4 separate regions of the Homo sapiens genome follow, and all the other regions are reported to be linked to region 1. Evidence: microRNA targets listed by miRTarBase, many of them from high-throughput screens and not tested one by one. Region 1 holds a microRNA gene; each other region holds the end of a gene's coding sequence.

Region 1 (3,251 bases):
GACACTACTCTTTAAACATTTTGTTGATTTCTAATTTTAATGTCTCTTGAATTTATGTCAGAAGAGAAAGTAATGAACCCATAAAAATGATTATAACTGTGCAAATCCTTTACCAGTGTAGCTGAACACAATTCTTTTGATATATGACACTTTCCCCACTGGTCTTCAGATCAGTCAGCAAATATTGATCAAACTTGATGAGCCCAACATTGTGCCAGATGCTGAGGATACAGTGCTGAATAAAATAAGTGTAGACTGTGCTCTCATAGAGCTTACAGTCTGGCAAGATGGACCAACACTATAAAATATATTTCTGATACTTGAAATTATGAACAATAAAGAATCATCAGTCATAAAATTCTTAGATATTCCTAATGGAATTGGAACACGATTTGCAAAATTTTTAAAAAAGAGTAATTTGAAGGGATTCCATGTTGAGGTTTCTTTTTTTAGTTTATTACTCAACTTTTGTATGAATATGTGTGTTTTAAAAATTCAATTACATATTAGGCAACCATCAAAACAAGAATGGATCATGATGCCTTCACAATAGAGATATTAATTATTGGTTCAACTTATACATTTATTTTAGATTCTTCTTTTGTGGCTCTAAAATCTTCAGTTAATATGAGAATGATCATTTGATGTATTATTAATTTCTGGACCATTTTCTCACCATCTTCAAATCGAATTAGAAGATGGAACATGATGTCATATATAAATCTTATCTGTCACTTGTATTAGATATGCTAAACACTGGGAAGTATTTTGTTTAAATCTGGCTTTCTTCCCAAAAGTAACATTCTGAATTCTCTTTTTATATGGCTGACAACCAACCAAGAGATTTTCTTGCTCTAGTTGGAAATTCATGGAAACCATAGGCAAATAGTATGTCCGAGGATAACAAGTAGAAAACCCTATGCTTGTATTTTCAATTATATTTTTATTTGCTTTAATGCAGTTTTAACATCAGTAACAGTGGAAATACGACAATCTGTATACGAGTAGTTATAATTCATGCTGATGAAAGTAGCTTCCATCTTATCATTCTTGCAATATTGAAACAAACTCCAGTGAACTTGTTTGAAGCTGGTTCAGTAGAGATTGTTTCAACACTGAAGGAATGAAAAATTAGAACCTCTGTTGTCAGATGAGCAGTAATAATCTGCATCAGTTCCTGGTCTGGTTCATATTTGAGCACTGAAGATGGAATTTTCCCAACAGTAGATGAATGTCTCAGTGGCCTTCTTCCTAAAATAACATACCCATTGGGGCATTACGTTTATACATACAGTCATCCCTTGGTATACTCAGGGGATTGGTTGCAGGACCTCCTGTGGATACCAAAATCTGAGGATGCTTAGGTACTTCATATAAAATGGTGTAGTATTTGCATATGTGGATACCAAAATCTGAGGATGCTTAGGTCCTTCATATAAAATGGTGTAGTATTTGCATATAACCTATGTACATCCTCCTGTATTATTTAAATCATCCCCAGATTATTTATACCTAGTACAATGTAAATATGATGTAAATAGTTGTTATACTGTATTATTTAGGAAATAATAAAAAGAAAAATAGTCTGTATGTTTACAATACAATTTTTTCCTGAATATTTTCTATCCAAGATTGGTTCAATCTATGGATGTACAACCCATGGATACAGAGGGCTGACTGTATAGATAGATAGATAGATAGATAGATAGATAGATAGATAGATAGATAGACAGACAGATAGATAGATATAAACATATAAATATATGTATATGTATGATTTTATGTATATTATATATATATAATTACAATCATGGAATTACTACTGCTTAAAAATAACACATATACAAATTTCATAAAGTTTATTAAATGTTAAACTTTTGCTGATAATTTTATACAAATAAGAATTGCTGGGAAGGTGGTATCATTTTCAGCAATACAGAGACAAAATAAAACCAGTAGTGATTGGATGAAACTACCAAACAATGTAAGAGACTTCAAATATCCTACTTATTATAAGTGTTATGTCTATACTACTTATTTCAGGGGGTTAAATAAAAATATGATTATATGTTCACATTCAGATAGAAATGAGATATTAAGGGCATATTGTTTTTCTGAATAAACATCAGTTTTCAAAGCTTTGCATATAAACCATCTTACATGATTTTTCAACATACAAACAAACAAAACTCTTAATTGTTGTCCCATGTAGCAGTTTAGCTGCCGTATATGTGATGTCACTCCTAAAGGTTCAAGTAAATGGCGTCACACATACGACCACCAAGCTGCCACCAACAGCAGTAGTCAGCAGCCCAAACATCATCAGTTTTTTTCAGTCGACAAATACTTTGAGTGCCTCTCACATGTCAGGCACTCTTCTAGGTTCTGGAAATTCAGCAGTGAACCAAACTGGCAAGCCACCTGCTCTCATAGAGCTTACATTCTTGATTTTATCCACACTAATCATGGAATCCACAGGAAAGGAATCTGATTTGAAATGGTCATATGCTTATGCAATTCCTACTGTGATGTAGGACAGTCAGTTTGCTTTTGGGTTACAGGCAGTTTCTAGAAGTACAGAGACAGTTACAGAGCTGTTCTTCATGGAACTTTGAGAAATGGTCCATCTCTGCAATAGTTCAAGCCCACTGAGTGTATGGACCCAAGCTGCTGTGCTGAAGGGAGAGCTTCCTATTGATTGCCACATGCAAAACTACTCTAAAAAGTATGTAAACCTAGAATCCACAAACTGATGCAACCAATGAGATTTTCATGTCACCATCCTTAATGTTGATAATGTATATAATTATTTTTGCTTTTCAGTTACTTACACATTTCAAAATAAGAAAGGACAAAGCACACTGTTGTAAAAAGTGTTAGCCCTGGTTTTCCCAGGTAAGATCAGATGCCTGGCTGGTGTACTGTGTAATTCTACTTACATTATATAAACAACGAAACTGCATATATCATAAATTCAAAGCAAATAGGTGAACATAGATAAGTAAACAAGTAACAATAACACCTGCTCTGAAGAACCTAATTTTTATGTCTTTGTTATTACCATTGGCTTTGTTGTCATCAGCATCGTCACTGGCATCTTTTTCTGAGAGCTCACTGTATACCAACTGCTGCTCTAAGCTTACTGTATACCTCGCAGGAGGGAGAGGAATTGAGTGGGTGGTTATGGTTAATGGAAAGAGGCTAATTGAAGGTGGTGACCCAAACTGAGACTTTAAAACCTATATGGAAAT
Region 2 (3,251 bases), not on the chromosome of region 1:
TTAGCTGGGCGTGGTGGCGCCTGTAATCCCAACTACTTGGGAGGCTGAGGCAGGAGAATCACTTGAACCCAGGAAGTGCAGGTTGCAGTGAGCTGAGATTGCACCACTGCACTCCAGCCTGGGTGACAGAGTGAGACTCTCTCAAAAAAAAAAAAAAAAAAAAAAAAAGGGTAACATGTAGTTGGATTGATTTTGGGGGTAATATATACTAGCAACAAATAAAAAACATGGTTGTCTGAATTCTGCTATTCTTTTCTTGGGGTATTGAATTTGGTAAGATTGTGTGTAGACACAGCTTGAATTTCCCTGCATTTAGAATTATCACGTTTTAAATAAATAAGGCTTTCCTCCCTCCTAAATTATAAATACATTATGTAGCTGTATCCCCGGCTCCCTCCATCCCTGGAGAGAGAGAAAATGTTAATCAGTTTTTTCCTTTTTGTTTATGTCATTGACAAGATTCTATTTTTTAGTAAATCTTGAAGGGTGGCCATTTAAATGGTCTCTTTCAATAGCTGAACTATAATTGTGCCATATTTAGAAGGGAAATTTTTAAGCTGGAGTTGTGGGTGAAATTAAAAACAAAAAACAAAACATGTCAAGGCAAATGAAGTATTTCATCAAAAGAGAAGTATATGTTGGTTTCCTCTTCTCATTCGACAGCAGACATGAAGGAGACACAGATAGATGGCTTGTTGGTTTTGCTTTACCTCTCTAGTTGCCTGCCTGTTACAGACCTAGACAAGGTGCTGAGATTTGATGCTAAGGAGTTATGTTTTGTGTCAAGATGGTTCAGTTTTGTTCTTTGGCATTTTTAATGAATCTCAATAAAACAACTTATCATTAGGATAACATTTAATTTCATAGTTCTAAGTAGGGGTGGTAATTAACTTACAGTATCCAATTCTTTACCTAATGGCATAAGGGGCATCCACTTAGATAAGTTACAGTCCAACTGAATTCAGAGAGAATTTTTCTGGGAATCAAGTGATTCACTGGGGTACCACTAATACGACTTCATTTTTTTTTTGACTTTGACTTCTACAGCTCTGGTTAAGTGATTTGGACAAATAGAAATTTAAAATTTTGTATTTGTAAGCTCAGGTCTAGTTTTTAATCTGTCCCTGTTAGAGAGCAAAATCTATATTATAAAATTTCCAGCTAAATGCAGTAGCAAGAAAGAAGGCAGAATGCTTTGGAGGCTATTCTTAGTTCCATAAATTGATTAATACCAATAGATCAAAAGTCTTGTCGTCCACCAGAACACTGGCTTTTTTCTATACAGTTCCACCAATTCCACCATTTCTCAGTTGCACCTGCTGTTTTGTTGACGTCCAAGTCATAAAATTTCTGGGATTGGCAATAAGTTAATTTGATAACTTTTTAGGATAGTTATAAGTACTGAATAGCTCATTTGAATAATAATGTTGTTTTTTTAAACTTTATTTGTATTTGTAAAGTATTTAAAAGAGGTTTTTGGTGCCAGATGCATAAAGCAAATATAAGTCAATTAATCTAAGGATAGTTCTTTATTTAGTGACCTTTTACTAAAAAGCATTACTTTGAACAAATTTTCTAATTTAGTTACCCTCCCTGTTAAATTTAGTTTTCTAGTGTAAAAATGGGGTACTACTTTGGAAAGATCCTCAGGTTTTCTCAGCTAGGAACAGATTATGGAACCATGTCTATCTCTCTACTTAAGTGACATTTATGGATCCTGAAAAGGAGTGTGCCATCTGGATGTACACGTGTACTGCATCGACCTCTCTGCCATGATATTAATTGCTTCCCTGAAGCTACATTCTTTCTTGCCAGTTCTGAAAACTCATATTTCAAATGCTTCAAGAGTCATAAATAATAGTCATGATTCTATGTGGCATGTGTATTACAGCTAGATCAGTTCATACGTATAACTTTTCATAGTATCTTGTGTAAAAATAGCTTTGGTTATTAAAATCATTGCAATAAAATACCTGCACTATAATATTAAGTGTGTTCTTTGGTACCTAGGTGATTTTTTTAATGGATGGACTCATGTTTCATTTCTTAAAAAATATCTGAACATTCCTTAACAAACAAAGAGAATGCACTGGTTTAGGTGTCATTCAAATTTTCTTTGCTGGGTTTGAATCTGCATTTAGGTTGCGGGCCTGGCAGGTTCAAACGTTAGGCTAGACGAGCAAAATCACACTCCTAATCCAATGAACTCAGACAACCCCATACCATGTTGGTTGCACTCCTATAGAACAACCATTTCTGAAGACCAGCTCTGCCTAAGTCTGTAACCACTGGTGGTGGTAGTACTGAGACACCATACACCTTCGTGGCATGGTAGAACAGATGAGAAAGTTCGATCTTAAAAGATGTCCGCTCAATGGCTCAAAATCACTATGCTCCAAACCACTAAACAGCCAAGCACAGCGAGGATGGTCATGGATTGAAGGTGTGAGATCCAGTGGTGTTTTCCTGCTCATCATTTGTCTTGCCAAGTCGCCGCCCTGCTGAAGTGTGTGTCTCCAAACAAAGTCAGAATGCAGGTGAGCTAAGTCTTTGGTTTCTTTGGACTATAAATAACGCTTTTTTTTCTTCAAATATTTCTAAGTATAAACCTGCTATCTTGAGGTCCTGGTCTTTTAAAAATTTTTTTTAATTTAAAGCTTTTCCACCGAGGTTTTAGTTTGTGGTTCTTCCTTCATGCTTTGGTACAAGTGCTTGATGAAGAAGATGAGTTGCCTGAATTGGAGCTGCCCTCGTCCTGCCACTTGTCCAGACTCCTCCTTCTTGCGTTCATGAAGAAGTTGCTGACAGTGCTCAGCTCCAACCCCAGCTGCTGGGAAATGGTGATTTGCAATTCTTTGGATGGACGCTTATTTTCCTTGAATATTGCATGTAGAGTTCGACGCTGGACATCTGTGAAGACCAACCTGGGCTTTTTGGGTGTGTTGCCTCTATCCTTCCCATGTTCTTGTTCTTTCCTTTTGCATGCTGTGAAGAAACACAGAAGATGTTAGAACAAATGGTCTAGGGGAGAATCATGAGTAGAAAGACAGAGCTCATAAAATTTGTTAGCCATTCCTCATGGCCTGCTTTCTGTTTGCTGACCTCTGCTTTAAGCACCATTGGAGGCTGGGAGGAAAGTGTAATAGCAGAATGGAGAATTGGGATACAGGTGAAGTTCTGTGAGGCCTGGGCATGGGTTGTGGCTTTGATGAGTATTTGCTCTTTGTCCTGGGTAAGTCAGTTAACTCCAT
Region 3 (3,000 bases), not on the chromosome of region 1:
GAAGCCTGCTGGAATGTGATGAAGACACAGTCAGCACAATCAGAGACAGCCTGATGGAGAAAATTGGGCCTAACATGGCCAGCCTCTTCCACATCCTGCAGACAGACCACTGTGCCCAAACACACCCACGAGCTGACTTCAACAGGAGACGCACCAATGAGCCGCAGAAGCTGAAAGTCCTCCTCAGGAACCTCCGAGGTGAGGAGGACTCTCCCTCCCACATCAAACGCACATCCCATGAGAGTGCATAACCAGGGAGAGGTTATTCACAACCTCACCAAACTAGTATCATTTTAGGGGTGTTGACACACCAGTTTTGAGTGTACTGTGCCTGGTTTGATTTTTTTAAAGTAGTTCCTATTTTCTATCCCCCTTAAAGAAAATTGCATGAAACTAGGCTTCTGTAATCAATATCCCAACATTCTGCAATGGCAGCATTCCCACCAACAAAATCCATGTGACCATTCTGCCTCTCCTCAGGAGAAAGTACCCTCTTTTACCAACTTCCTCTGCCATGTTTTTCCCCTGCTCCCCTGAGACCACCCCCAAACACAAAACATTCATGTAACTCTCCAGCCATTGTAATTTGAAGATGTGGATCCCTTTAGAACGGTTGCCCCAGTAGAGTTAGCTGATAAGGAAACTTTATTTAAATGCATGTCTTAAATGCTCATAAAGATGTTAAATGGAATTCGTGTTATGAATCTGTGCTGGCCATGGACGAATATGAATGTCACATTTGAATTCTTGATCTCTAATGAGCTAGTGTCTTATGGTCTTGATCCTCCAATGTCTAATTTTCTTTCCGACACATTTACCAAATTGCTTGAGCCTGGCTGTCCAACCAGACTTTGAGCCTGCATCTTCTTGCATCTAATGAAAAACAAAAAGCTAACATCTTTACGTACTGTAACTGCTCAGAGCTTTAAAAGTATCTTTAACAATTGTCTTAAAACCAGAGAATCTTAAGGTCTAACTGTGGAATATAAATAGCTGAAAACTAATGTACTGTACATAAATTCCAGAGGACTCTGCTTAAACAAAGCAGTATATAATAACTTTATTGCATATAGATTTAGTTTTGTAACTTAGCTTTATTTTTCTTTTCCTGGGAATGGAATAACTATCTCACTTCCAGATATCCACATAAATGCTCCTTGTGGCCTTTTTTATAACTAAGGGGGTAGAAGTAGTTTTAATTCAACATCAAAACTTAAGATGGGCCTGTATGAGACAGGAAAAACCAACAGGTTTATCTGAAGGACCCCAGGTAAGATGTTAATCTCCCAGCCCACCTCAACCCAGAGGCTACTCTTGACTTAGACCTATACTGAAAGATCTCTGTCACATCCAACTGGAAATTCCAGGAACCAAAAAGAGCATCCCTATGGGCTTGGACCACTTACAGTGTGATAAGGCCTACTATACATTAGGAAGTGGCAGTTCTTTACTCGTCCCCTTTCATCGGTGCCTGGTACTCTGGCAAATGATGATGGGGTGGGAGACTTTCCATTAAATCAATCAGGAATGAGTCAATCAGCCTTTAGGTCTTTAGTCCGGGGGACTTGGGGCTGAGAGAGTATAAATAACCCTGGGCTGTCCAGCCTTAATAGACTTCTCTTACATTTTCGTCCTGTAGCACGCTGCCTGCCAAAGTAGTCCTGGCAGCTGGACCATCTCTGTAGGATCGTAAAAAAATAGAAAAAAAGAAAAAAAAAAGAAAGAAAGAGGGAAAAAGAGCTGGTGGTTTGATCATTTCTGCCATGATGTTTACAAGATGGCGACCACCAAAGTCAAACGACTAACCTATCTATGAACAACAGTAGTTTCTCAGGGTCACTGTCCTTGAACCCAACAGTCCCTTATGAGCGTCACTGCCCACCAAAGGTCAATGTCAAGAGAGGAAGAGAGGGAGGAGGGGTAGGACTGCAGGGGCCACTCCAAACTCGCTTAGGTAGAAACTATTGGTGCTTGACTCTCACTAGGCTAAACTCAAGATTTGACCAAATCGAGTGATAGGGATCCTGGTGGGAGGAGAGAGGGCACATCTCCAGAAAAATGAAAAGCAATACAACTTTACCATAAAGCCTTTAAAACCAGTAACGTGCTGCTCAAGGACCAAGAGCAATTGCAGCAGACCCAGCAGCAGCAGCAGCAGCACAAACATTGCTGCCTTTGTCCCCACACAGCCTCTAAGCGTGCTGACATCAGATTGTTAAGGGCATTTTTATACTCAGAACTGTCCCATCCCCAGGTCCCCAAACTTATGGACACTGCCTTAGCCTCTTGGAAATCAGGTAGACCATATTCTAAGTTAGACTCTTCCCCTCCCTCCCACACTTCCCACCCCCAGGCAAGGCTGACTTCTCTGAATCAGAAAAGCTATTAAAGTTTGTGTGTTGTGTCCATTTTGCAAACCCAACTAAGCCAGGACCCCAATGCGACAAGTAGTTCATGAGTATTCCTAGCAAATTTCTCTCTTTCTTCAGTTCAGTAGATTTCCTTTTTTCTTTTCTTTTTTTTTTTTTTTTTTTTTGGCTGTGACCTCTTCAAACCGTGGTACCCCCCCTTTTCTCCCCACGATGATATCTATATATGTATCTACAATACATATATCTACACATACAGAAAGAAGCAGTTCTCACAATGTTGCTAGTTTTTTGCTTCTCTTTCCCCCACCCTACTCCCTCCAATTCCCCCTTAAACTTCCAAAGCTTCGTCTTGTGTTTGCTGCAGAGTGATTCGGGGGCTGACCTAGACCAGTTTGCATGATTCTTCTCTTGTGATTTGGTTGCACTTTAGACATTTTTGTGCCATTATATTTGCATTATGTATTTATAATTTAAATGATATTTAGGTTTTTGGCTGAGTACTGGAATAAACAGTGAGCATATCTGGTATATGTCATTATTTATTGTTAAATTACATTTTTAAGCTCCATGTGCATATAAAGGTTATGAAACATATCATGGTAATGACAGATGCAAGTTATTTTATTTG
Region 4 (3,251 bases), not on the chromosome of region 1:
GAAATGGAAAAATGTCCCTGAATAGTTAGATGTACCTTTTAGTAGTAATGTCTAATAATAAATAAGAAATCAATTTTATAAGGTCCATATAGCTGTATTAAATAATTTTTAAGTTTAAAAGATAAAATACCATCATTTTAAATGTTGGTATTCAAAACCAAAGATATAACCGAAAGGAAAAACAGATGAGACATAAAATGATTTGCAAGATGGGAAATATAGTAGTTTATGAATGTAAATTAAATTCCAGTTATAATAGTGGCTACACACTCTCACTACACACACAGACCCCACAGTCCTATATGCCACAAACACATTTCCATAACTTGAAAATGAGTATTTTGCATATCTCAGTTCAGGATATGTTTTTTACAAGTTAATCCTAAAGTCATAAAGCAAGAAGCTATTCATAGTACAAGATTTTATTTGCTAAGCTTTACAAATTAAACTCTAAAAAATTATTACAATGATACTGAAAGATATTTTATTGGCCTTTTAAAAGACAAACACAAATGAGAATTATCTTATTTAGAAAATTAACTTTGAAAATTATCTTAAATGAAATAAATATAATATCTAATACAATCTCTTCCTGCAAGATCTCTTAAGATGGGCAATCCTAAAAATGCAGCTTCCCATCTGAAAATCCCTAAAACTAGTATGTCCCTTAAAATAAAATTTATTTTTCTTATAAAGGACATTTGGTATTCCCACATTTTCTTAAAATTTGTCCTAAAACAAATTCTATCTTTAACACTCACGTTTCTAAATATATATATGTGTGTGTGTATATATATGTGTATACATATACACATATATATTTAGTTCACTTAATTTAAAATTAGTGAAAGCTATCTGGACACAATTTCTAAGAAAACATTGCAGAAAGTAAGTTATGCATGGTTATTTACAGGAAGAGTTTTCCTAAATAATAATGTAAATATCATGTTCAAAAATCTGACAAATCCTTTCTAATAATCAGCACTGCAGGTTTCAATACACCTTATATAACAAAAGATGTTTCATGTGTAGAACTGCCAGATGAGTCTAAGAGCCAGAAACTAAATCATTTGACATGGTTAAGAATTTCATTTTTATTATACTAAATGTCAGGTCAGAAGTCAATGGCATTTACAAGCTGGAAGACTGTTTATCCACTCAACTCTTTCAATTATATCAAACACTGATTAACCAAATGTGACTGGACTTAACTGCTACAACTTTATGGTTTCTATCAAGTATATGCAAATATCTTAAATGGGCACATATGCATATGTGCAAAACAAATGAAATATAGATACTTAAAGAATGAACAGAAATGGCTTGTAAGCAAAAACCACCCTGCCATTCAATTTCGAAACTCCGTCTTTTCTTCACTAATTTGTCTTCTGTTATTAGTAGTCTTCTATTAAAGTTGTAGGTTTACAGATGATCTGGAAATTTCACATTGGTATAAGAAAGGAATGTCGGGTTGATGCAGTCTGGAGACAAAGAAGGAATTAGTCTTAAAATGTATTAAGTTGTCTTTATCTAAATCATAGTATAATACAACACATTTTATAGAAGAATTATATTAAGTATATAATATTCTCTTCATTAAAGTCTACATATCAGAATACATTCTAAAGTGTAAGGCTTCTATAGCAGATTTTCATCTAGAAAATATTTGCATTGTATTTTAGACTCTTCAAAATGCATAGAAGACAATCACACAAATTAGTAAAACAGCAAAATTACTTTGCCTTTTAATCTTATTATTAATACTGACAAATTCTTAATGCCAGTGTCTGCAAAGATATTTTGCTTGTTAAAATAAAAAAGCGACTTCTTTGGGAGTGGTTGGGGGAGACTTTAGTAGAACACTTAAAATGATACTTTAACATGATCTAGAAATACAAATGTATTCATAGTACTCTAGCAGAAATAAGTAAATTATATAAGCTTATGTATAACTTATATAAATGATAAAATGTAAGCAACCAAATCACAAAGCATGCAGTTTATTTATTTGAAAAAAGAATACTTAATAAACTTGAAACACTTTGTTCCTTATAGTCCTGCATTCAGAAGTTAAGTACTAGTAGACATTTTGGTAATAGAGTTCAAATGCTTTATAAGTTTACCTTATTTATAGGTATAAAGTACATGGTACTTGCTTTAAAAAGTAGAATAGGGAGTATGAGGTTACTTTATGTGAAGATACTCCCGCTGAACAATAAATAAATACTATTACTATACCCACGACCTCCAGAAATTCACTGGATAACCAGTAAGACAACTTCTACTCATTTCTTCATATTCCTACTTATTCAAGTTGTAGCCTTCATAGTTGATAAAAAATCAGCACACATTAAGAAAACAATAACAGAACTATTTTCTTCACATGACTTTTATTCCTTAATCCAGACTGTTAAAAGGACTGCAAGACAAATTGTTTTTCAATCAGATTTTTTTCTCCACCAGATGTCTATGTGAATTTCATATTGTTTTAGACAAAAATGCTCATTCCTTCGGTCTAAGTACTATGTCATATTTTGTTTTTTCAAGCCTTCAAATTTTGTGCTGGTGGTTACTTCATATACATTCTATGGTTAATCTTTAAAGAGAAGTTTTAAAAGTCTGATTCAAAATTTCAGTTCACTCGCTATGTATTTTAAAAATTAAAATTTATGAAATTCAATTTTAAAAATCTAAAAGTTATCTAAAAAGGTCTATGACTTATCAAATTTCAATAAGCTGACTGTTAGCAGTATTAAAAAATATTAAATATGCTAACAGTAAAAATCATGAATACACATTAGGCATTTAATATGTATCTGGCAAATTTGAATACATAAAGGGAATAGGCAGAGTTCACAGATTAATATTTCTTACCTCTACAATAAGAAGAAATACCTTGTTCTATGAGCAGCTGCCATACTTTCAGACATGTTTCTGACTTTTAGATAATTAACAAATCCTCTGAAGAAAAGGAGCAGGCCTGAGAAGGTTGAAATAATATGGATATACTATGTTTTTATACAGAAAAGGGCAAGATAAATTTAAAGTAGACAATTATAAACAAGATCCTCTTGGCTTAAGGAATTTTACTTGCAGACTTCCATTCATTTCTGTAATATATTTTACACTATAAGGATAAACTCTGTCACAAGGAAATACAATTTTTCAATTTGTTAAGCCTAGATGTACCAAAATTAAAGCAAATCTAGCTATAAAAATCCAGAATTACATAAAAATATACATTTAAGTGA

Evidence for each region. The annotated mature microRNA hsa-miR-489-3p reads GUGACAUCACAUAUACGGCAGC and lies in region 1 at 2,220-2,241, opposite strand. An mRNA with a match to its seed (bases 2 to 7 or 8) in the 3' UTR can be bound and repressed. Matches are read on the target gene's strand: a 7mer-m8 pairs with bases 2 to 8, a 7mer-A1 pairs with bases 2 to 7 and ends in A, and an 8mer does both.
Region 2: the mRNA of ONECUT1 is a reported target of hsa-miR-489-3p. The part of its 3' UTR that is shown has no 7-base or 8-base seed match.
Region 3: the mRNA of STC1 is a reported target of hsa-miR-489-3p. Seed matches in the 3' UTR shown: 7mer-A1 at 1,892-1,898.
Region 4: miRTarBase lists NDFIP2 as a target of hsa-miR-489-3p. Seed matches in the 3' UTR shown: 7mer-A1 at 1,071-1,077.

The regions. Positions count from the first base shown.
Region 1 is chr7:93,481,728-93,484,978 of GRCh38, forward strand. It overlaps MIR489 (microRNA 489), which reads right to left and starts at 2,292; the gene lies at 2,209-2,292. All of the region lies in intron 3 of CALCR (calcitonin receptor), which reads right to left. MIR653 (microRNA 653) reads right to left here and starts at 1,128; the gene lies at 1,033-1,128.
Region 2 is chr15:52,754,863-52,758,113 of GRCh38, forward strand. ONECUT1 (one cut homeobox 1) reads right to left here. Exons shown (of 2, transcript NM_004498.4): 2 at 191-2,985. The coding sequence ends at 2,693. Among named protein-coding and RNA genes, the nearest start is that of ONECUT1, 34 kb to the right of the region's middle.
Region 3 is chr8:23,842,021-23,845,020 of GRCh38, reverse strand. It overlaps STC1 (stanniocalcin 1), which reads left to right. Exons shown (of 4, transcript NM_003155.3): 4 at 1-3,000. The coding sequence ends at 251. Among named protein-coding and RNA genes, the nearest start is that of STC1, 11 kb to the left of the region's middle.
Region 4 is chr13:79,550,746-79,553,996 of GRCh38, reverse strand. It overlaps NDFIP2 (Nedd4 family interacting protein 2), which reads right to left. Exons shown (of 8, transcript NM_019080.3): 7 at 2,875-2,980; 8 at 1-1,481. The coding sequence ends at 2,877. Among named protein-coding and RNA genes, the nearest start is that of LINC01068, 14 kb to the left of the region's middle.